Linked DNA regions of Homo sapiens. The protein of the gene in region 2 interacts with the protein of the main gene of each other region in a pairwise test. Each region holds a gene or a part of one and is shown on either strand. Other genes may lie near its edges.

Region 1 (4,013 bases), on a different chromosome or scaffold from region 2:
AGACTCAGTCTCAGAATAAAATGAAATAAGGAAATAAAAATGTAATTGTTGAAATAAGAAACTAGTGGATGGATTAGACACGAGAAGAAAGAATTAATTGTTTAGGCGATTCTCTCCAAAAAGTAAGTCAGCATGTCACACAGAGAGACATGAGGATGGATGATAGGGCAGAAGTTGGTGGGCTTGGAGGGGAGAGGAAGATCAGAATGAGGTCCAAAATGTGTCTTAGTGAAATCCCAGGAGGAGATATTAAAATTATATTAGAAAGTGAAAGAAATAGAAGTTTTATTTATTTATTTATTTATTTATTTTGAGAAGGAGTCTCGCTCTGTAGCCCAGGCTCGAGTGCAGTGGCACGATCTGAGCTCACTGCAAGCTCCACCTCCTGGGTTCACGCCATTCTCCTGCCTCAGCTTCCCAAGTAGCTGGGACTACAGGCACCCACCACCACGCCTGGCTAATTTTTTGTATTTTTAGTAGAGATGTGGTTTCACCTTTTTAGTCAGGATGGTCTCAATCTCCTGACCTCATGATCCGCCAGCCTCAGGCTCCTAAAGTGCTGGAATTATACGCATAAGCCACTGCACCCGGCCCAAAAGCTTTGTGTTTTTACAAATATTACACATGTTTCTTGTTTAAGAAAAAAAGTCTTCACAATAACGTAGGAGAATAAGAGAAACATTTTTCCAAAAAAGAGAAGTCATTGTGATTATTTTATCTTATTGGAATGTTGGATAATATAGTCTGCTTCAGTAATCATCAAGCATGCTATGGATTTTCCATCTTCATAGGATCTGTATCTCGGTTAAGGTAATACTGGTAATTTTTGTACTCTATGAAAAATATAGGCCAAAATCATAGACCTTGCATAGAAGCTGGATCATGAAGACAGCTCTGGAGGAACACACAGGTACACACACACAGACACACATATATATAAAGTATACACATATATATTTTTTAAAAGCTTTTAAAGCAAAAGCCGGCCCTGCCCCTCTCCCAGAGTTGGCGGCCTCTCCCCTCTCTTAGAGTGGGTGGGGACAGTGGTTGCATGGGCAGCTTTCCTTGTGAGCCAAAGGTCCCTCTGGACACATGATGCCTGGCCACGCCCCCTTTCCCTTTCATCTTTCTCATTAACCAATGGGCTTGGAGCATTAAGGCCACGCCCCTATTCTGCCTTCTACTGCATCCCTGGTTACGCCTCCTCTGGCTCAGTCGCACAGCTACCTGGTAGGTGACTGGAGGTGTTGATCAGTGCTTGGTGGGATTTTGCTGATGTGGCCCCAAGCCCGCCTCCCTCCCCACCCTGCGATGGCAGAAGAAACTCGACAAAGTAAATTGGCAGCAGCCAAGAGAAAGGTAAAAACACACCAGGTCACGGACCCCCAACCCAGCCATAGATCCTCTCCAACGACAAGACTGCTGCCAGAGTCCATACCACTCCCGAGGTTCACCGGACTGGGACCCCCACACCGGTGCCTCTGGGCTACCCCCACCAAAGTTTTGTCAGTCAGCCCCACCCCTTCAGCAAGCAGCCCAGTCTCTGCCCTCACCAATCACCCCAGGGTGACTTTGGGCAGGTGAATCCTGGGGCTCCCCGCTCCTTTACTGGGCCCTCATCTCCTGCCACCCCAAGCTTGACCTCCCAGGGCTTTTTGGGCTCACATCTCCAAGGACCTGGGTCCCACAGCCCCAGACCCCACCCTCACCAGTCATCCCTGGGTGACTTTAGGCTGGTGAATCCTGGGGCTCCCTGCTGCTGACTCTTCCCTTCCCTCCTGCTGCCTCAAGGTGGACCTCCCTAGGCTGTGTGCACTGGTGTCTCCAAGGACCTGGGTCCCAGCTCTGTTTTTCCCTCCCCTATCATGGAGCGGTGACTCGGACATCATGCTGATGTGGTCCCTCCCCCTCACCAGGAAGAGTGGAATGTAGTGATGTCACGGTCCATCCAGTAACTGTCATTACTGCAAGACTGGCCTTTGATCTTATGACCCAGTCCCCTAAGCATTGCCACCCCATTTCTGGTTCCTCTTGTCACAGCACAAATTTCCAGCTGGAAGGGGAATGGAGATTGGGACCTAGGAGCAAGAGGTTTCAGGCTGCCTCACTCCCTTAGCATAAACATTGACAGCGGGAAAAGCCTACACTTCCCCTGTGAGCTCAAAACATTGACAGTACCTCTGGATGGCAACTGGAGAATGGGTTTGACTTGGTTTGGTTTTCTCCCAGGCTTCTACTTTCCAGAGAGATTTTAACAAATTTTTTGTGAGTTCTCCACCTCACATTCTAATTCTCCATGGTTCTGGGACCAGACTGCCCTTCAGCCAGTGGTCTGTGAAGTGAGATTTGCTCATCTTCTCTGGAATAGATCTTGGGAAACTGAACTTGACAGCTTGAATCTTCCTCATATTATGTAAACCTGGGGTACTTTGAGTGCCACAGGATACATATGGGACATCTTTCTGAAGCATCAGTTTCCATTGATTCTCTTGAGATCAAGAGAAAAAACATTAATGTACTTAGGGATGACAGTCACATAGGTTTCTAAGAGTATACCAGACTTCTCTCTGAAATGAGGCTTGGGTTGTCCTCTTTCTGATAAATTCCCAGATTTAACAGAAAGGCTGCCTTCTGCCATGAGGACACATTGATATAAGAGTTTGAGAGGTACTGGTGCACTTCTTCACACTAACAGACGTGTGAGGATGTATGACTAAACCACATGGCATACAGTTCCTGCCTACTTAATGTTTACTTTTCTACCTCTGCCTCTGGTTTTGGTCCCTGGCAGCTGCTGATTCTTGGTAAAACCCCAGAGTTTGGAGTCAGAAGACTGAGTTTCAAAGTTCGTCTGTCGCCTTTTTCTTTTCTTCTTTTTTTTTCTAGCCATGATATCAATCTCTTTGAGTCACTAAATGATTGTGACAACACCTTGTACAGTTGTTGGTATCATTAAATCAGATGGTGTATAAGAGTATTTTATAAAAACTGTAAAGGAGGATGTGGCTGCAGGGGCTGATAGTTCTCATGAGTATTACTGCTCTTGTTTCTGACAGTTAAAAGAATATTGGCAGAGAAACAGCCCTGGTGTTCCAGCAGGAGCCAAGAGGAACAGGAAAACAAATGGCAGCATCCATGAGACAGCCACTTCTGGTGGTTGCCACTCACCTGGAGATGTGAGTCTTGGCTGACTAGGTTCCTGGGGACAGGGGACCCAAGGGGCACTAGAGGGTAATTGTTAAGATTGTGGATGGACTGTTGGGTACCTGTGAAGAATTCTGGGTTTGAATCCTGCCTCTTTGTCTGCTAGGGATATGAATTAGGGCAAGTTGCTAGACCTCATCGGGCCTCTCTTTTCACATCTGTATAATAGAGGTGGTATTGTTTCACTTCCATTTGTGAAGTTTAAATGAGATTTGTTATTGTTGTTTTTATGTTAATCCCTAGTACATGGCCTGCTGTAAACACCCAGAACACCCAGGATATGGTCATTGCTGTTCGATTTTCCTCATCCCCAGTCTCAAGGGGAAGCCAGGACAATGAGAACAGTCACTTGGCACAGGAGTCACTGAAAGGGCCACAGGGTGCTGTGGTGGGGAGATAAGAACCATGAGAGAAGTTGGCACAAAGGAGTTATGGGACAAAGGGTCCAAGATAGGCAGAAAAGAAAATTGTGCCAGTTGATGGGGAAGAAAAGAAGTCAGAGGGCTTAGATACTGAGTGGGACAGAACATCTTCATGTGCACTCTCATCTCTTGTAGTCAGCAACAGGTATCCACGGGGAGAGCCCTACATCATCTGCTACCCTGAAGGATCTGGAGGTAAGAGGCTCTGGGCAGAGGTGCAGTGACCCTGCAGGCCAGCCCTCCAACCTCCTCCTCCAGGTGGGACGGGGTGCCCCTCTGCCAGCTGAGACAGTCCACACACACCCCAGCCCTAATGATTGCTCTCTCTACCTCTCCCCCCACTCCTCCTCCACCTCCTCCTCTCTGCATGCGCCTCAGAGCCCGTGC
Region 2 (3,500 bases):
AATGGAATGATATACTCAAAATTGCTATTGGTATTTTACACTGCATTATAAGATTTGATGTTGTGGATCACTGATGTTACATGTTGTGCACCTTATGTTTATCTTATATATAATGAAAAACACATTTAAAAACTCTGTTCATAGTTTAAGTCATATGAACACAATTTCATTTATAGATTCCATGTTGGACTAAGTATAATATAAAATAAAAGAACATTGCTATTGCCCTCAAGAATTTTACTTAAATACAGATAAAAAAGCCAATAAGTACACACATACTTTTACATACGCTCAGTCTGAGCATAAAATTTTTTATGGTCCAGTTGCTAAACGTTTGAATTTCTCAAATACTCCTATATTGAGATGCCACTTTTTAAAGGATTACTATGTTCAATCTTACTTAGACCTCAAGTACGTATGTTCAACAACTTATGAAACAGAACTTCATATCTAAAAGTGTTTTCTAGAGAGGTTTTGGTTTATCTTAATATCATACTACAAGCAGTTAAAGGTTTTGTTAATATTTTATAAGAAGAAAATTACATGCTTTCCCAAATGGACTGTGAGTTACCTGAAGGAAGATGAAAAAAATAAGAATTATATCTCCCCCCGTTGAGCTGCCGTCAGTCTTGCTGTCTTTGGTCTCTATTTGTTCCATGTCTAGCGCAGTACCTGGAAAAGTAGTAATTCAATAACTGTGAATAATATGATTGCATGTGTTTGAATAAATGAGTTATTACCAATTCTGTCTCCCTTTTTTTTCAGACTCCCAGGAAGGAAATTACAAGTCAGAAGTCAACAGCAAACCCAGGAAAGAAAGGACAGCATTTACCAAAGAGCAAATCAGAGAACTTGAAGCAGAATTTGCCCATCATAATTATCTCACCAGACTGAGGCGATACGAGATAGCAGTGAATCTGGATCTCACTGAAAGACAGGTAAAGCTGGGCATTATCATTATATGATCTTTTTTAATTGCCCTGGGTCCACAGTCTTCTTTGCCATATTTGAAATACCTAGATCCAGAATTCTTGAATACCATTTGGAAGACAGTTATACTATTCCATGATAAAATTTTGCCAGCAAAATAACAAAATTAAAAATAATATAGTGATATTTGAAAGAAAACCATACTTATTGAGTTGAAGAAAGAATCCTCCTATGATTATTATCCTTCTGTATTTTTGGGTTTTAAAATATTATTTCTTTTACATAATGATGGCATACAGTGAGGAGTTGTGCATGCTTATATGTTAAAATCTCCTTATTTGGCATATTAGAAAGTTGGTAAACCCAGATTAGTTTTCTGTATTGCTCAGGATAGGTCATGATAAGTTGCAGTAACACATTCACCCTCAAATCTCAATGGCATAACATAAAAATGTTCATTACTTACTCACTCTCCATACAAACTCTACATGTCCAGCATTCCAGATAATCACTCACAGACCCATTCTGACTCTTTAGCATCTCAACATGTGGTGTCCATGGTAACTACAAGAAATAAGAAAGAATTGGAAGTTTATGCACTGACCTTTAAATGTTTTCACCTGGAAATTAGCCATGTCACTTCTATTTACACACTAATGTCTAGAATAGTCAAATGGTGCGGCTTAGGTGCAAGATGGCTGGGAAATGATGAAAGGCAAGGACACATAGATCATTGGTAAATATTTCTGCCCCTTTACCCAAAATATTTTTGAAATTGTATCGGTGTCAGTAATTCAAAATTCTGCTACCCACTCAGAGAATACTTTGAAATTATTAATGTTTTTGGACTCCAATTAATGAGACCTAAATAATATTTTTAAATTAATTGCTTTTTAGGTCCCTTTCTTGCATTTTTTTTGAATGACAAATGATTTGTTCTAACAGTGTTCCCAGTGAATTCCTTGTACAGATTCTTGTTTCCCTGAGGAGAATCTAGCCTACTGCCGGTTAACAGTTGCTAATCTTTACAAAAACATTCCTGAAAGGCAAATGCAAACATCTTTATGGACAGTGCAGTTATGATTGGCACTCTTAGGGCTAGAGTCTCATTTCCTCTTTCACTGTGTGTACCTCCTCCAGGATCCCATTGGAACCAAAGAAATATCAACAGGGTGTGGACAAATGAATGCATGTCTTAAGAGAGCAAGTTATTTTATCCAATTTCTTAAATGACCTGCTTTCCTTCTGTTAATTTTTACATTTCAGCTTTGGTAGGTTATTTATGGGTAGTAGAAATATACAGAGGAACACTTTTCTGTGGTTTTATTTATTGGCAGTTTGTATTTTATTACATATTATGACTAGTACCTATGTTATGGAGCACAGCATTTTCCTTCCCTTAGACTTCACATACAAAATTCCCTCTATGGGTTCAACATTTGGCATGCTGGAAAGCAGGATCCAAAGTCTACATCATCAGACCTCTATTTTATTATTTTTTTTAAACAGGGAACGGAAAATAAAAAGGTGTATGTGGAGGGAGAATTACACACTAATGTTCTTATATAGAGATGGTGAATTCTAGGAAATGCAACCGTGTTTTATATAGTAGATGAAGGAACTAGGAAACTAGGATTTGCTTCCAATCTGTAGAAATGACAGGATCCAGTACTGTGCTCTCAGCCAAGAGGAAAAACAAGATTCTGTACTTGACATTTTGGGGGTGGTCTACGGTTATCTGTCATTGTTTGACCACGGAGCAGAATCATTTATCTTTAGAAGCAGTTTTGTAAATCTGGTTTGAAAACGTTGAAGGTGTCTTGGATATTTCTTCTTTCTAACTGACTTCAGGAGCTTGGTAAAGAATTACATGCAAGAATTATATATACCTATACATACTATTTTAATGTTGTTTTAAAGATTCTTTTAACATTTTGTGTTAGTTACCCTTTGCTGTGTAACAAACCACTCCAAATCTTAATGGCTTCAAATAATAACCAAAGTTTTATTTGCTTTAGGTTTTGTAGGTTAGAGATTTTGACTGGGCTTAGTTGGACAGTAATACTGCTGGCCCTACATGGAACCCTCATGGAGCTCCAGTCAGCTGGTGGGCTGACTAAGAAAGAGATGGTTGGGCCTCAGCTGTGGTTTCATCTTCTTATAGGCTAGCTTGGGATCCTTCCAATGGTGATAGAAGCATTCCCAGGAGCACTGAGGGGGAAAACTCCGGTGAGCAAGGGCTTTTCAGGCCTCTTACGTCATATTTGCTAGTGTCCCATTGTCCAAAGCAAGCCATGTGACCAAACTCAGTGTCAGTGTAGGACAAGATCGCTTCATTGGAAGTCATTCCTGAAATAATCTAACCACAGCATCACAGGGGGGAAATTAACACAGAACATGAGAGATAGTTCAGTTTTCATTGAATTGAAAATTTGTTATTGTGCACAATATATTTTTATTCCATAAATCTCTACGTGCAGTTTTGCAAGTTAATGTGAAAAGATGTATACATGCAGAATTTAAATTCCTAATCAAAACTAAGGCTTTAGAGGGCCTCCCTGGGTTAGTCA
Region 3 (3,500 bases), on a different chromosome or scaffold from region 2:
GTGGGGGGGCTGACCCCCCCCACCTCCCTCCCGGACGGGGCGGCTGGCCGGGCAGAGGGTCTCCTCACTTCCCAGTGGGGCAGCCGGGCAGAGGCGCCCCTCATCTCCCAGACAGGGCGGCTGGCCGGGCGGGGGGCTGGCCCCCCACCTCCCTCCTGGACGGGGCGTCTGGCCAGGCGGAGGGCTGACCCCCCCACCTCCCTCCCGGACGGGGCGGCTGGCCGGGCGGGGGGCTGACCCCCCCACCTCCCTCCCGGGCGGGGCGGCTGGCCGGGCAGAGGGGCTCCTCACTTCCCAGTAGGGGCGGCTGGGCAGAGGCGCCCCTCACCTCCCGGACGGGGCGGCTGGCCGGGCGGGGGGCTGGCCCCCCACCTCCCTCCTGGACGGGGTGGCTGCCAGGCGGAGACGCTCCTCACTTCCCAGACGGGGTGGCTGCCGGGCGGAGGGGCTCCTCACTTCTCAGACGGGGCGGCTGCCTGGCGGAGGGGCTCCTCACTTCTCAGACGGGGCGGTTGCCAGGCGGAGGGTCTCCTCACTTCTCAGACGGGGCGGCTGGGCAGAGACGCTCCTCACCTCCCAGACGGGGTCGCGGCCGGGCAGAGGCGCTCCTCACATCCCAGATGGGGCGGCGGGGCAGAGGCGCTCCCCACATCTCAGACGATGGGCGGCCGGGCAGAGACGCTCCTCACTTCCTAGATGGGATGGCGGCCGGGCAGAGACGCTCCTCACTTTCCAGACTGGGCAGCCAGGCAGAGGGGCTCCTCACGTCCCAGATGATGGGCGGCCAGGCAGAGATGCTCCTCACTTCCCAGACAGGGTGGCGGCCGGGCAGAGGCTGCACTCTCGGCACTTTGGGAGGCCAAGGCAGGTGGCTGGGAGGTGGAGGTTGTAGCAAGCCAAGATCACGCCACTGCACTCCAGCCTGGGCACCATTGAGCACTGAGTGAACCAGACTCCGTCTGCAATCCCGGCACCTCGGGAGGCCGAGGCTGGCGGATCACTCGTGGTTAGGAGCTGGAGACCAGCCTGGCCAACACAGCGAAACCCCGTCTCCACCAAAAAAATACGAAAACCAGTCAGGCGTGGCGGCGCGTGCCTGCAATTGCAGGCACTCGGCAGGCTGAGGCGGGAGAATCAGGCAGGGAGGTTGCAGTGAGCCGAGATGGCAGCAGTACCGTCCAGCTTCGGCTCGGCATCAGAGGGAGACCGTGGAAAGAGAGGGAGAGGGAGACCGTGGGGAGAGGGAGAGGGGGAGGGGGAGAGGGAGAGGGACTACCTTCCTCTCTTGACCAGGTACCACCTACTTTTTTTTTTTAAAGATGGAATCTTACTCCGTCACCCAGGGTAGAGTGCAGTGGAGCGATCTCGGCTCACTGCAACCTCTACTTCCCAGGCTCAAGTGGTTTTCCTGCCTCAGCCTCCCAAGTAGCTGGAATTACAGGTGTGTGCCACTATGCCCAGCTAATATTTGTATTTTTAGTAGAGACGGGGTTCCGCCATGTTGGCCAGGCTGGTCTTGAACTCCTGACTTCAAGTGATCTGCCCACCTTGGCCTCCTACAGTGCTGGGATTACAGGTGTGAGCCACTGCGCCTGGCCCCAGATACTTTATTATTGATACAGAATTCCTGTCTGATATAGTTTGTATGCAGCTGATACAGTTTGTATGGTTTTTGGGTATTTGTTTTGATCCAGGATCCAATCCAGGATCCTGTGTTACATTGACTTGTCATGTTATTTTAGTCTTCCTCAACCTTGAATGGCACTCTCCTTTCTTTTTTTTTTTTTTTCATGAAATTGATATATTTTTAAAAGACCCAGCTGGTGGTTGTGTAGATTGTCACTTGATGTTCAGTTGACATTCCCAATATTAAATTCAGACTCTCGTCTTTGGCAGGGCATTGTCTAAGTGACATCATGTTCTTCTTGGTGTGTCGTGTCAGGAAGCATGTGAGGCTGGTGGTGATCAGGTTTTTGTCATGTGGTTAAAGTGCTCTCTGCCAGGATCCTCCGCTTTTTCCCCTCTGTAATTGATAAGCCATTCTAGAGATGGTACTTTGAATGTTCTTTTAATCTTATGTTCATGGTGTATTACTCATTTTGATATAGTAAGATGTTTCAAATCTTTTTCTTTATGTTTTGTGCCTTTTGTGAGTTGAGAAATTCTTTGGCTTGGCGCAGTGGCTCGCGCCTATAATCCCAGCACCTTGGGAAGCTGAGGCGGGTAGATCACTTGAGGTCAGGAGTTCAACACCAGCCTGGCCGACATGGTGAAACCCCATCTCTACTAAAAATATAAAAATTAGCTGGGTATGGTGGTGGGCACATGTAATCCAAGCTACTCAGGCAGCTGAGGCAGGAGAATCACTTAAACCCAGGAGGCGGAGGTTGCAGTGAGCTGAGATCATGCCACTACACTCCAGCCTGGGTGACAGAGTGAGGCACTGTCTCCAAAAAAAAAAAAAAAAAAAAAAAAGGAAGAAAAAAGAAATTTTTTTTGGCTTGATGTAGTGGTGGCTCACGCCTTAATCCCAGCACTTTGGGAATCTGAGGCTGGAGGATCACTTGAGCTCAGGAGTTTGAAACCAGCCTGGGCAACACAGTGAGACCCAATCTCTACAAAACATTTAAAAAAAAAAAATGGCCAGGCGCGGTGGCTCACGCCTGTAATTCCAGCACTTTGGGAGGCCGAGGCGGGCGGGTCACGAGGTCAGGAGATCGAGACCATCTTGGCTAACATGGTGAAACCCCGTCTGTACTAAAAATACAAAAAATTAGCCAGGCATGGTGGCAGGCACCTGAAGTCCCAGCTACTCGGGAGGCTGAGGCAGGAGAATGGCGTGAACCCGGGAGGCAGAGCTTGCAGTGAGCAGAGATCGCACCACTGCACTCCAGCCTGGGTGACAGATCAAAACTCTGTATCAAAAAAAAAAAAAAAAAGAAAAAAAATTATCCAGGTGTGATGGCATACTCCTATGGTCATGGCTCCTGAGCCCAGGCATTCAAGATTACAGTGAGCCATGATCATACTACTGCATTCAAGCCTGAGCATCAAAGCAAGACTCTGTCTCTTTAAAAAAAAAAAAAAAAAAAAAAATTCTTGGCTGGGCGCCATGGCTCATGCCTGTAATCCTAGCATTTTGGGAGGTCGAGGCAGGCAGATCACCTGAGGTCAGGAGTTCAAGATCAGCCTGGCCGACTTGGTGAAACCCCATCTCTATTAAAAATATAAACAATTAGCCGAGTGTGGTGACGCGTGCCTGTAATCCCAACTACTCGGGAGGCTGAGGCACGAGAGTCACTTGAACCCAGGAAGCGGAGGTTGCAGTGAGCCGAGATCGCGCCACTGCACTCCAGCCCAGCTACAGAGCGAGACTCCGTCTCAAAAAAAAAATATATATATATATATAGATAGATAGATAGATAGATAGATAGATATAGATGTAAAATTAGCTGCGTGTGGTGGCAGGTACCTGTAGTCCTGGCTACTCAGGAGGCTGA
Region 4 (3,500 bases), on a different chromosome or scaffold from region 2:
GGCGATTATCAACCCTGGCTGCTCATTAAATCACCTTGGGAACTTGTAAATAATACTGATGTTGGATCCTTTCCAGAACAACAAAATCAGAATTTTCAGCCTTGGGGCTCCCAACATTGGTACTGTGTAAAAGGTCCCAGGTGATACTACTATTTAGCTGGGATTAAAAACTAATGGAACAATATGAAATATAAGGTGAATTTCTATTGACATTTTAATAGGTATGTCCTTTTTCCACCTTGCAAGGGATTTGTTTATTCTCTTTAAGTTACATTTTTTAAATTAAGTAGAAATAATTGTATTTTTGCATTTGCTGAGTAGAAAGTATACTGGAAAATCTGATGGTTTTACAGGATATTTTAAATAAAAGTGAGTAATAAGAATGATTGTGAGAAGCTGGCTTTTCCTTACAAGGATTAAAATCCTTATAATCATAATTGCATTTCTAATAGTAATTTTTTATTGCAGATATTTATTTTAATATAAACTATGTTTATTGTCTGGATTTTTAAAACTTTTTAGTAAAAATTTTTGATAAATTACTATAATGTCTGTAATTTATGTTAGATTAAGTGGACTTATCTAATTTGGTTTCATATTGACATTTCATTGATAATCTTTGTTTTAAACAGATATTAGAATGTGAATTCTATCTGTTAGAACTAATGGTAAGTAAATCTTCTGTGATTAATAGATTAAAACATTTTTAAATTAAATGAAGTTGGAAATTATTTAAAGAAATGATTTTAGAGAGGTACATTTTAAAACCATCCACCTAATATGTGATGGTGAAATCATGGTAGCCTATTTATATTAGCACCTAGAGTCTCTCTGAAGCCTGTAAAATAATTTGTATATCCTACTTAGGATGGGAAAATTTTTCTGTTCTATAGTAAGTAACTATAATGAAAGGATTACAAACAGACAAGTCAGGACATTAAACCACCATAAATTATGTGCACAATTTGTGTGTGCGTGCAGTGTTATTTAAAGATAGATTATGTCTTTGGCAGAATTCTGCTCCTCCAGTTGGGAATTATGAATTTATAGGCTAATAAGAGGTTTCAGTGTGTTGCAGATGTGACACTTTGAGTCTCTAAGGGAATGAATGGATGCTGACTGACTGCCAACCGATTTATCAAGGTATATTCCAGAGAGAGCACTGCCTTCACTATTACGGTAGAGTTTAGGGCTGTCATACTGCTAGCTTAAGAGAATAAAAGGGAAGCAAGCATGAGTTAGTGAAATTCACTTTGAAATACACAATTACAAATCAGTTGGGTAATGATAACATTTTTGTGTTGTAATAAATCTGTTTTTTATACATACACATTTTTTAAACTGTTTCTAGGATTGTTGCTTGATAGTGTATCATCCTTATAGACCTTTGCTCCAGTATGTGCAGGACATGGGCCAAGAAGACATGTTGCTTCCCCTTGCATGGTAATTAGAACAGAAGTTATTAATAGTGTAACATGTTATTAGATAGGAAGGTTGACAATTAAATATGAAGTTAAGTATTTTTAAAGTCATTAAACTATTGCCCCAAGATATTTTATGTTGAGCAAAATACCACTTGTTGAATTTTAATAACTATAGTGGTGTAAATGCCAAAATGAAAACAATCCTAAATTATCTGTTCCATAAATATACCTATTAAAATTTAATTTTATACAAAACACAGACTGTTAACATAAAAATTAAGACTGAAGTTATCTTTAAAGTAATCAGAATACTTTTTGGTAGTCTGCAACATACATATAAATTTACTGTATAATTTCTGGTTTTTTAATTTGATTTTTCTGATTTTTAAAAAATTAGAAAAATGTGTTTATAATTTGTTATGAGATTTTGAAATTTAAAATATATTTAGCTGTAATTTTATTCATTGATATGTGCTTATTTGTTGTCACATTCATGTATCCATCCTTTTGCCTTGATGTTTTCACTTTTATAGCTGTGCTTCAGTAGTATAAAAGGAAATAAATGTGTGCAAAGATGGGAAATCTGGCCCTCTCTGGAGGAAATATACAATCAGATGAGGTAGTTCTGCTTTCAGTAATAATATGATTTACATTTCTATAGGAGGATAGTGAATGATACCTACAGAACGGATCTTTGCCTACTGTATCCTCCTTTCATGATAGCTTTAGGTATGTAAGCATGGTGTGCCTTTATGAGTTAAATTGTTATAAACTTATTTAGGTCATCCTAAACTAAATTTCACCCTATTGTACTTTATGTTTTTATGTTCCATGAAGTAATAGACTAATCCTTGCATGTGAGCTTTCAATAATATGAACTGCAACTGTCATAAATCAGGATTATTATTCCCCCACCCCCTTTTTGGTAAGTTTTTTTTTTTTTTTTTTGAAACCATTCAAAATAGTTTTAATCGGTGTCTGAATAGAACATATTTGTTTGTTTAGAGGGAAAAGTTCAGAATTAAGCCAGCTAATATTAGTTGTAGCATGTAAAATAATTGGGGCTTTCATATCCTGAGCCCAAACAAATACTCAGAGGTTGAGTAAAGGAGCATCTGTGGTCCATAATGCTTGGCTGGAGGAAGACGTTAAGTACATTCATTCTACAGTCTGTGGAAAGCAGTGCTGTAATGGGTGGAGTCAGATAGTCCTAGGCTTAAACTTTACCTCCTTTACAATTGTGGGAAAATTATCTGACCTTTCCGTGTTTGTTTCCTTAATTGTAAAATGGAGAGAATACTAATAATTCCACTGAGCCGTTTGAAGAATTAAATGAGATAGGTTGTAGAGCACCAAATAATGCCTGTTATATATTGGGCACTTGTTAATTTTTGTTCCTTTTCCTTCTATTGATTTTTTTTTTTTTTTTTTTTTGAGATGGAGTCTCACTCTGTCTCCCAGGCTGGAGTGCAGTGGTGTGATCTTGGCTCACTGCAACCTCTGCCTCCTGGGTTCAAGCGATTCTCCTGCCTACAGGAGGATTATAGGTGTCCACCACCATACCTGGCTAATTTTTGTATTTTTAGTAGAGACAGGGTTTCGCCATGTTGGCCAGGCTGGTCTTGAACTCCTGACCTCAGGTGATCCACCCTCCTTGGCCTCTCAGAGTGCTGGGATTACAGGCGTGAGCCACTGCACCCCAGCCCCTTCTATTGATTTTTATAACTCCATCCTCTTGATTTTCCCCTCTTATTTTCCATTGGTTTGTCTTTGTTCAGTTGTTCAATTATTCCTTAAATGTTGATGTTTCTTGGCCTTCTTACATCAGGGCTGACAAATAGGTTATACTTACACTTCTGTATTACTGGCAGTTCCCTGAAAGGACTGGATTTGAAAGGATTTTGAGTGGTGTCCTACCCAGTGGGTAGGAATACTGGGATCTGCATAGGTAGGAAGGAAGGGATAACAGAACATGTGTCACATCTTTGCCATCCCTGCTGTCTTCTTCTTGGGTACTTTAACTGAGATTCATGGCTTCTACTATCACTTACATGCCGAAACATTTAAATCTCTTTA
Region 5 (3,500 bases), on a different chromosome or scaffold from region 2:
TCTGGGATAAGTCATCCCCAGTGGAGGCTCTGAAAGGTCTGGTGGATAAGCTTCAAGCGTTAACCGGCAATGAGGGCCGCGTGTCTGTGGAAAACATCAAGCAGCTGTTGCAATGTAAGTACCCACCCACGTTGTCTTTATGAGGCTGGAGGGGTTTCCATGGGAGTGTTGCATTTCTGTGGTTCCTTGATATCTGAGTTTTCATTTAGGGTGGCATGTGATAGTGGTGGCTGGTCACCCTGTTGTTTTTCAGTTGAGATATATCGGAGGAACCACCCCCAATAATTCAACGTAGGTTCTTTTCTATTTTCCCTAAGTGTCGGCTGGTCTGAGAAATAAAGGGAAAGAGTACAAAAGAGAGAAATTTTAAAGCTGGGTGTCCGGGGGAGACATCACATGTCGGCGGGTTCCGTGATGCCCCTCAAGCCGCAAAACCAGCAAGTTTTTATTAGTGATTTTCAAAGGGGAGGGAGTGTACGAATAGGGTGTGGGTCACAGAGATCACATGCTTCACAAGGCAATAAAATAAGGCAAACGGGGGCAGAGCGAGATCACAGGACTGGGGCGAAATTAAAATTGCTAATAAAGTTTCGGGCACGCATTGTCATAGATAACATCTTATCAGGAGACAGGGTTTGAAAGCAGACAGCTGGTCTGACTAAAATTTACTGGGTGGGAATTTCCTCGTCCTAACAGGCCTGGGAGTGCTACGGGAGACCAGGGCTTATTTCATCCCTTATCTGCAACCATATAAGACAGACATCCCAGAGTGGCCATTTTAGAGACCTCCCCCTAGGAACGCATTCTCTTTCTCAGGGCTGTTCCTTGCTGAGAAAAAGAATTCAGTGATATTTCTCCTATTCACTTTTGTAAGAAGAGAAATATGGCTCTGTTCCGCCTGGCTCTCAGGCAGTCAGACCTGATGGTTATCTCCCTTGTTCCCTGAACATCGCTGTTATCCTGTTCTTTTTTCAAGGTGCGCAGATGTCGTATTGTTTAAATGCACATGCTTTATGAACAATTTGTGCAGTTAACGCAATCATCACAGGGTTCTGAGGCAACATACATCCTCAGCTTATGAAGATGACGGGATTAAGAGATTAAAGTAAAGACAGGCATAGGAAATCACAAGAGTATTGACTGAGGAAGTGATAAATGTCCATGAAATCTTCACAATTTATATTCAGAGATTGCAGTAAAGACAGGCGTAAGAAATTATAAAAGTATTAATTTGGGGAACTAATAAATGTTCATGAAATCTTCACAATTTGTGTACTTTTGCCATGGCTTCAGCCGGTCCCTCCGTTTGGGGTCCCTCACTTCCTGCAGCAGAGCTTAGGAGTGTAGTTGATGATTTCCATAAGTATGTTCTTTCTTGGTAGCTATTCCATGTTTTTTTAAAACACTTACTATTCATCCAGCTTCTTGGATGGATATCGAGTGGTGTCCATTCTCTCAGGGTGAGGTCTGTAGCTTTTGTTGGGGGTTGGAAGGGACCAGGAGATTATCCCAGGCTCAGGAGATTGCTAATTAGAGTCCTCTTCTTTTCAGCTGCCCACAAAGAATCCAGCTTTGACATTATTTTGTCAGGTTTAGTCCCAGGAAGCACCACTCTGCACAGTGCTGAGATTTTGGCTGAAATCGCCCGGATCCTTCGGCCTGGTGGATGTCTTTTTCTGAAGGAGCCAGTAGAGACAGCTGTAGGTAAGGAGATCTTCACTTGGAAAACATGTTTGACAGGGTTGAGTCTTAGAGTATGTGTGCTGCATCTCCGTGAGCAGGAGGTATCATTGGGAGATCAGTATTCCTGTAGCAAAACCTTTTCCTTGGGGATAAATTATTGTTAAAATCTGAAGCAACATATCTGGAGAAATTGTAATCTTTGGCTGACTCATTATGTAATAAAATAGAAGGAAACTGCCATCTAAAAATGGGTCCTTTTGCAGGTGAATAAACTTTGATATGTTCATAATATGGAAAGTGATGCAGCAATAAAAATGAACTAGCTAACTATATGTACATCAGCTTGGATGGATATCAAGGGAAGTAGCTGAGTGAAAAAAGCCAATCTCAAAAGGCTCTGTACTGTACAAATCCATTCATATGCTCGAAATAACAAAATTGTGGCGGTGGAGATCAGAGTTTGCCAGAGGTTAGAAGTGGGAGGAAAGGGTTGGTGGAGCTATAAAGGGGTAGTATGAGGGTTCCTGTGGTGATAGAACAATTCTGTGTTCTGAATGTCGTGGTGGTTACACAAATCTACACATATAATAAAATTACATAGAACTATATAGCCCCCTTCTGCCAAACGAGTACATATAAAAGAAATGAAATCTGAAAAAGTTATGTGGACCATCAATATCAATTTCCCGGTCTTCATATCATGCTATAATTGGGTAAGATGTTAACTGTGGGGAGGGACGAAGTGAAGACCTCCTTAATATACAGAACTTTTTTTTGTTTTTTCCAACTTCCTGTGAATCTATAGTTATTTCAAAATTAAAAGTTTAAAAATAGTGGCCGAACCCTGGGAATGATGTGGTAATTATTGATTCATGTGAAACTAATGACAGTGTTCATGAAGTAAAAACTTTTTTGATCGGTGGTATAGCTGTCAGAGTGATTCAAGTCTGGATTTTTAATATTTTTCACTAGACTTTCAGTCAAAACATAACCATTTCATCAAATAGAATAATAGAAATGAAAGTATTTTGAAATGTATAAAGGTGTTCATTGTTTATTTGGAAATAGAACTTTGTGTTATGTGTAGTATAAATCAGCATTCTTTGCTGGGAATTTAAACCTTACATGACTAAATGTAGTGTCTTAGAACTATACAGAGATAAAAAAGGAACTATTCAGAAGGAATACTTGTGTTTCTGTGCACTTTGCAGTTCATAAGCCTCTTTTCATAGTCATTATCTCACAACCTCTGGAAGGGGTTTCAAGAAGCAGAGAGTGATAAAAAAACAATAATAATGGAATTATAACATTTAAGAGCTTAGGTAAAAACACTTCGAACAACAAAAAGGATTTGTCAAATTAAAATAGTATCGCTATGGCCAGGCACAGTGGCTCACACCTGTAATCCCGGCAGTTTGAGAGGCTGGGGCAGGCAGGTTGCTTGAGTCCAGGAGTTCGAGACCAGCCTGGGCAACATGGCGAAACCCCGTCTCTACAAAAAATACAAAAATTAGCCCAGTGTGGTAGTGCACACCTATAACCCCAGCTACTTGGTGGGGGCTGAGGCAGGAAGATTGCTTGAACCTGGGAGGTCGAGGCTGCAATGAGCTGAGATCATGCCACCGCACTCCAGCCTGGGTGACAAAGTGAGACCCTGTCTCAAAAATAATAATAATAATAATAATAATAAAATAATATCACTAAAATATATATACAATTGTCCTCATCTTACAATGGAGTTACATCCTGATAAATACTATTAAGATGAAAATGCATGTAATTCATCTAACCTACTAAACACAATTGCTTAGGTTAGC
Region 6 (3,423 bases), on a different chromosome or scaffold from region 2:
AGCCGGAATGCTGCCTCCTAATTCCAAGTTGAGAGAAAAGGTTTTATGAATACGACTCATTGAGCTTGCTATGTGATCCTAGAAGTCTATGGGAACACAGTAGACTTGAATCATGACTGAAGACTTTAAAGGGTGACTTTAAATCTGGCCAAAGCGGCCTGTAGTAGCAGAGAAGAGGGCTCTAATTTGTGAAGTATCTGAACTGCAAATGGCCAGACGACATTTCATGTTTCCAATGAACCCTTGAAATCTCCCACGAAAGAGTCAAGACCAGAAGCACAGAACCAGCTCATGATAGTATCTATTACACAAGAACTTTCCTACTACTCTTATTGGTCCGTCCTCCCTCTACTCCCTAGGAGACAGAAACTTGCTTTAGTCCAGAGTGGGTGGAGGAATAGAATTACAAAGAGCCAGAGTGGGGGTGGTGGGAGGCGGGGGAGAGAGATTCACCACATCCTGTTCCATAACTGGAGCTTCTGAGGGAGGGAGGAATCCATAGTTCTGAACAATTTATGTAGTTGTGACTAATTTCATGGGCCTGCACATTTTACTTATTATATTGAGAAGATGTTTCATGACTGGAGAATCACATAAAATTTGTGGAGACCTACCTAAATTTTCCTGAAGAAGCAAGGAAATAAACTAACAATTCTGAATGAAATATACAGGGGAGGCAAAAATATGCTCACATCATACAAGTCATGACAAGAATTCAGTCATACTTATTACTATCATTTCCTCATATCATCAAGACCTGAATAGTTTCAATTTCTTCTCGTTATAAAAATGTCCTGATGAACCTCCTTATAGTTAAAGCTTTGGTACATATATTGTTATTTTTATAGCATGAGTTAATGAAGAAAGATTTCTAGGCAAAAGACATTGTCTTTCCCAGGCTTTGGATAATTGCCGCCACATTTCTCTCACTAAGGGTTAGGTTACATTTCCACCTACCGGATATCAAATGCATGTCCCTCCACCCCTTGTTCTACTCTAGGCTATACAAAGGTAATTTTCATCACCACACTATTTGCTGATGGGTATTTTAAGAGGAAAGAACATGGGCCCCAGAGTCAGATAGGCTTGAATTAGAATCCCAACCCCACCAACTCCTAGCCGTGGAGCCTGGGCCAGCCACATAATCCCCAGAGCCTGGTTTTCCCCATCCATATTACAGAAAAAAATATCAATACTCATCTCATCTCATAGGGTCACTGGGAAGATTAAATAATATGTATGAAACACTAAGCATAGGACCTGGAATATAGTATATACTTCATAAATGTTAACTGTCAGCATTAAGCTCAGAATATCCTCCTCTGGATATTTGAAAACTATTTTCAATTACAATTTTTTTCTTTTTACTTTTTTTTTTACACTTAGCATTTTAATCTGTTTAGATTCTATGCCTCTGTGTGTGGAGGGAGACAGGGGGAGTTCATTCACTCAATAAGTACTTATTAAGTGCCTAACTATATTCCAAGTTCTGGGTATTGGAATATATTCCAAGTTCTGGGTATTGGAATATAGTGGTGAACAAAACAGACAAAAATCCTCCCATTTATACAGCTGGCATTCTAGTTAAACAAGATAAGGAAATGCATAGATGGTAATCAGTGGTAAGGAGAAAAATAAGGAAATGGAAGAAAATAAAATAGCCTTCAGCTGAGTGACAGCTGAGGGGTAAGGGAAACTAGAGTATGGGAACAGCAGAAAAATCTTAATAAAAAGGAATAGATAGACATTTTCTTAACACTGTAAAAATTTAACTATTGCAATCCAAAATCCAGCATTCCACATTATAAAACTGAAAGTACTCCCATTAAAATTAGAAATAGGAAAAAAAGATATGCACTATTAAGACTACTTTTTAACATTATTTTCAAGTGTTTAAGCCACTATAATTAGAAAAGAGAAAAATTTGAACTATAAATAATAGAAGAGTGGAAGAGGAACCTAATTACAATGGAAACTTCCCAGCCTTCTCCCATCTACCCCCCTCATTCTCTATTGCTCTACTTTTCTAGAACCAAATAGGAAGGAAAATAAGAGTCAAAGAAAAGGATAAAATTCTGACATGAATTGCATCATTGCATGAACAAGGCAGTGATTTTCCCTCTGCCTGAAAGTCTTTATATTTGTTCAGAAATTTTCAATGAAGCAAAAGAGATTTCTTTGTGCTGTCCAATGTGGTAGCCACTAGCCACTTATGACTGTTCAAACTCATTAAATTAAATCAAAATTCAGTTTCCAGTCATTTCAAGTATTCAATGGTCACATGTAGTTAGTGGCTATTGTCCCCAAAGTCTTTCTCTGATGCTTCTCATTCCATTTATACATAGGACGATGGGAATAGTCTACATCAACCTTTGACTTCTTGTGTGTCCTATTTAACATTCCTTATTTCTCAGGCGCGGAGCCTTTCCATCATCACAGAAAGTTCTACTGAACAATGCTGCTCTAGATGAATCCACCAAAATGACTCTGCTCAAAAGCAGAGGTAATACTAGAAAAATTTTAAAGCTGCCAAATTTTTCAGAGGAGACTTTGAAAATGTATTCTCCTCTTAGCTTCTGTGAAATTTGGAAGGTGAAAAATACAAGTTTTAGGCACATGTCATTAGATGTATTGACTTTTAGACAAATCACTTTTAAGAGATTCGAGCAGAGGCAAAAGCAGCAACATCTTAGCTTGGCAACTTCATCAAGTCATGCTTAGGTAAGCTGGCAGAGACACAGGTTCTTAATGGAGAAGCTTGGAGAGCAGGAATAAGCATCTAAGAGTAGAACCCCCACACACACAAATATCTGATCTGATCTACAATTTAAGGGCTTCTCTTCTCCTTTCGTTTCTCTCCCTAATCTCCTGCTCTTGCTAGCTAGCAATGGCAAGATACTCATTCCTTGAGCCTGAGTCCTTGAGAACCTCAGAGTGTTCTTCTGATTATGTGAATATACCAGCACATGGCAAGACAGGTGAACCATGAAGATACTCTGTTATCTGCTTACAGCCAGGGATGTGAGGGATGAGGTAAGTGGGTGAAAGTGGGCATAGATTGCAGTAGGCCTCTGGATTCCTGGTACCAACCCTTTGCATAAAGAAGGAGGAATACTGATATACAGTGACAGGAACACCATAAATCCAAAGCATTGGATTCCATGAGGCTGTTTCTTTGTATTCCAAAATACCACCCTAGACCCAAGTTTTCCAGAGCTTTGAAATCTGTTCATTCACACGGCCTCATTCTTACTCTAGTTTTCTTTCTTTCTTTCTTTCCCCTTGCCCTTTAAAGGTGTTCAGGAATCTGAGGATGCCTAGTCTCCTGTTTTGCACACCCTCAAGTGTACTAAATGATCCCAGACAAAAGAAACATCATTATGCCCAGGCTGGGTACTTCTCAACTTCTCATATACAGAGTGC
Region 7 (3,500 bases), about 66 Mb from region 2:
ATCAAAATAAATCACATACAATTAAGTAGGAAAGTAAAAGAGTTGAGGTACCTGAGGCAGACAATGAAGTCTATGAGATTAGTGGAAGTGTGTTTACACTGGCTGTTCTAACTCTGAACTCCCTTCCATTGTCAGGACTTAGTCCTGACTGAGGTCACAAGTTTGCTGCCCAAGAGCTTGTGCCCCCAAATTTTCTTTTAGCATGTTAAGCTAATGAACTGATAGATGCCCAAGGACATTTATTTTTGTCTCCTTTCCCATCAGTTTTATAACTAGATATGAAATATAGCAGTACAAACTTGACCTTGTACCTGTTTTAGAGTTATCACCTTTTAAGACTTTCCCCATACATTCAGTTTCCTCATATCATTTAACAGTTAATTCAAATAGTCAGAAATAGAGTAACTTAATGGCATTTATATTGATGAAATATAGTTCCTTAGGACCTATGAAATCCATCTTATTTTGTATTTCACCAAAGACCTTTGGATAGTATTGAAATTATAAAAGACTTGCATAATCAGCATCAACTTTTTCTATACAAGCCATTTCCCCAAGTCCAATAATTTTTGTTCTTCCTAAAATCAATATATATCATCAATATCAATATAGATGAATTCTCTAGGCTATCAGCTCTCAGTTACCACTTTATGGGTCAATTACTGAACATTTTTCATCTTCATTTGAGTTTCTTTTTAAGTTTGGATATTTCTGAGTCATATTTCTATTCTCTGAAGCAGATATACAAAACATTGAAACACTTTTTAAATGGGCTGCAATAAAGTTATTTAAAAGGAATTTACTGAAAATTTGCACAGTACAACTTATTTCAGTAATTAGGGTAGTCATTAAGGTAATGTTTTCCCTTTCTTCACAAAGCTTCGTAGAATAACTCTAAACATAAGCTATTGTTTAGTTTGCCTAGGTTAGCTCATAGAATGCAATGAAATAAAGCATTCAACTAACTACATAAGGTAGAAATGGTTTGTATGAGAGAGGTGTTTAGATGAAATTTAAAAGCTATTAAAAATATTTACACTATTAACTATAGAAAACTTTCATAGGCATCCCTAGTCACTGAAAGCATGTCTAATTCTGGCCTGTCCTTCGTACAGTGGTACATCCAATTCCAAAATGGATAAATCAATGAAATTTACTCAAATCTTAAACTGTCCTAGAGGCTGCCAACTTGAGTTTCATCCAGAGGCATCTTGAATGGCCATTTAGATTGTAAAGGTAGCTGGGAAGTTTACACTTTTATCAAACCATAAACATTTTCATGTATGTTTTAAGAAGATATATGAATTTTAGTTGCTCTGGAATGTTTTGAGTTACATTTTGATTGACTAAACATTACAGAGAGAGAGAGAGACCAAATTGTGGTAAAAATTTAATTTTATACTTTTATTACTTAGTGACTGAGGGTTTCAAATCTTCATGACGTATAGTAAGCATTGAAGTTGGACTAGGAAAAAAAGCAGGAGATAGATCTTCCTAGGAATAACTGATTTTTTCTTTATTGTCAACAAGATGACTAAAAATATATTTAACATGTTAGCTTAGAATTTATTTATTTATTTAATTTATTTTTTGAGACAGACTTTCACTCTTCTTGCCCAGGCTGGAGTGCAATGGCACGATCTTGGCTCACTGCAACCTCCACTTCCTGAGTTCAAGCCGTTTTCCTGGCTCAGCCTCCCAAGTAGCTGGGATTACAGGCACCTGCCACCACCACTCCTGGCTAATTTTTTTTGTATTTTTAGTAGAGATGGGGTTTCACCATGTTGGCCAGGCTGGTCTTAAACTCCTGACCTCAGGTGATCCACCCACCTCAGCTTCCCAAAGTGCTGGGATTACAGGCATAAGCCACCATACCTGGCCAGAATATATGTATTATATTGGAGGAAAATTATGGTTAATTTCATTACCACTTTGTATGTACTTATAAGCAAGCTGATTTTAGAAATAATTGTATAGTCATTTCAGAAACACTATATATTCAGCATATATAAGTTATACATGTGGAGGTAAAATGCATTTAAGTAACTTTTCAAGAAAAAACTAATTTAGGATTTGAATGAAAGGAAAATTGGAATGAAGTTAGTAATAATGTTAAGTTAAATTTCTTATTCCACTCAATTATTATAAAAGCTTATAAGTAACAGAAAAAAAAATCTGCTAATACAAATGCCAATGAACTCTAAGAGGCAAATGACATCTTCAAAGATTTTATATAAGTTTTTTTTTGTTGTTGTTTTTTGCCAATAGCTGACAATACTATGAATGACACTGATGTTCCTTTGGAAACAACTGAATGCATCCAAGGTCAAGGAGAAGGCTACAGGGGCACTGTCAATACCATTTGGAATGGAATTCCATGTCAGCGTTGGGATTCTCAGTATCCTCACGAGCATGACATGACTCCTGAAAATTTCAAGTGCAAGTGAGTAAAGTAGGCAAATGTTATACATTTCAGTAGGCCCTGGGGAAAATGAGGTAGAGTGGTTACTTTTTACTAATTTTGTGTTAGTGATCAAACTTCAGCGTGCCCAGTGATAATCAGGAGTTAAAAGGCAGATTACACCTCCACTCAGAGATTTTGATTCTCTTAATCTGGGATTTGGTCCTCAAATATGCATTTCATTAAGGACCCTAGGTGGTTCAGATCCAGAGGGTAGATTCACTATGCTTTGGGAAACACATCCCTAGGTGGATTTCTGATCACAGTTTTGCTCTTCTGGGTCTGTTTAGTAAATCAGTTAATAGTCATGGCAGCCAGGCATGTTTCAAAATACTGCCTTCTTAAATTTTCGTATTAGCTTTGGGAGGATTACACATTTTTCCTTTCGAAAGAATGGAAAGAAAAGGCCTACCACTGAAGAGTTATTAGCCTTAAAGATCTGTGAATAAAATAATTTTTCAAAGCTTAAATGAATGTGTTCAGTTGTTTCTGGATTTGCTTTGAAAAGTGGGGAAGCAAATCAATTGTGTAGATGACTCAAGCCAAAGAAACTGCCCTTGAGTATCAATTACATAGTTGTTTTGTGCATTCTCTATGGGTACTTTTCACACCATTTGACTTTTGCAGACAGGCACAGACACAATGCCATGTGTTTTTAAATTGTCCACCTTGTTATGAGGAACATAAAGTGATTGCTTTTGAAATTAATAACACACATCATTCATAGTGGCTTTTCTGAAATAGCACCTATAAATAACATATATTGGCTTTATGTAATTGGCTTTTAATAAGACAGCCTAACATTTCTGAATGAAGAGCTATGAGCACTAGTTGGCCCATCCGCCATAGGAGAGGGGAGATTTGTGTTGTATGTGTGTGTGTGCATGCACAAGCTTTAGCTAGTTCTGTAATTTATTTGTTTAAATAGTAAATATTAATCTAAGATTTTTTCCCATTAGTTTACAATAACAAAATTGACAGTTGTCATGCTGGGTTTATTTCCCTCATTTCCATCACAGCAATTCACTCTCTATTCGTG

The links.
Region 1: the proteins of MEOX2 (region 2) and GOLGA8F interact in binary tests that used the Homo sapiens proteins (3 or more experiments, as listed by UniProt).
Region 3: the proteins of MEOX2 (region 2) and ZNF329 interact in binary tests that used the Homo sapiens proteins (3 or more experiments, as listed by UniProt).
Region 4: the proteins of MEOX2 (region 2) and CCNC interact in binary tests that used the Homo sapiens proteins (3 or more experiments, as listed by UniProt).
Region 5: the proteins of MEOX2 (region 2) and CIAPIN1 interact in binary tests that used the Homo sapiens proteins (3 or more experiments, as listed by UniProt).
Region 6: the proteins of MEOX2 (region 2) and WFDC9 interact in binary tests that used the Homo sapiens proteins (3 or more experiments, as listed by UniProt).
Region 7: the proteins of MEOX2 (region 2) and HGF interact in binary tests that used the Homo sapiens proteins (3 or more experiments, as listed by UniProt).

Annotation. Positions count from the first base shown.
Region 1 is NC_000015.10:28,377,451-28,381,463, forward strand, and holds the start of GOLGA8F (golgin subfamily A member 8F), read left to right. Parts: upstream 1-1,213; 5' UTR 1,214-1,311; coding exon 1,312-1,359; intron 1,360-3,056; coding exon 3,057-3,176; intron 3,177-3,761; coding exon 3,762-3,821; intron 3,822-4,004; coding exon 4,005-4,013.
Region 2 is NC_000007.14:15,624,184-15,627,683, reverse strand, and holds part of MEOX2 (homeobox protein MOX-2), read left to right. Parts: intron 1-765; coding exon 766-938; intron 939-3,500. UniProt on the Homo sapiens protein: Mesodermal transcription factor that plays a key role in somitogenesis and somitogenesis and limb muscle differentiation. Required during limb development for normal appendicular muscle formation and for the normal regulation of myogenic genes.
Region 3 is NC_000019.10:58,144,290-58,147,789, reverse strand, and holds part of ZNF329 (zinc finger protein 329), read left to right. Parts: intron 1-3,500. UniProt on the Homo sapiens protein: May be involved in transcriptional regulation.
Region 4 is NC_000006.12:99,548,161-99,551,660, reverse strand, and holds part of CCNC (cyclin-C), read left to right. Parts: exon of another isoform or gene 1-632; coding exon 633-668; exon of another isoform or gene 669-1,068; coding exon of another isoform or gene 1,069-1,092; exon of another isoform or gene 1,093-1,351; coding exon 1,352-1,443; intron 1,444-2,085; coding exon 2,086-2,153; intron 2,154-2,261; coding exon of another isoform or gene 2,262-2,272; exon of another isoform or gene 2,273-2,349; intron 2,350-3,276; exon of another isoform or gene 3,277-3,364; intron 3,365-3,500. UniProt on the Homo sapiens protein: Component of the Mediator complex, a coactivator involved in regulated gene transcription of nearly all RNA polymerase II-dependent genes.
Region 5 is NC_000016.10:57,437,386-57,440,885, reverse strand, and holds part of CIAPIN1 (anamorsin), read left to right. Parts: coding exon 1-114; intron 115-1,551; coding exon 1,552-1,704; intron 1,705-3,500. UniProt on the Homo sapiens protein: Component of the cytosolic iron-sulfur (Fe-S) protein assembly (CIA) machinery required for the maturation of extramitochondrial Fe-S proteins.
Region 6 is NC_000020.11:45,610,862-45,614,284, forward strand, and holds part of WFDC9 (protein WFDC9 precursor), read right to left. Parts: intron 1-3,423.
Region 7 is NC_000007.14:81,728,548-81,732,047, reverse strand, and holds part of HGF (hepatocyte growth factor isoform 1 preproprotein), read left to right. Parts: intron 1-2,268; coding exon 2,269-2,443; intron 2,444-3,500. UniProt on the Homo sapiens protein: Potent mitogen for mature parenchymal hepatocyte cells, seems to be a hepatotrophic factor, and acts as a growth factor for a broad spectrum of tissues and cell types.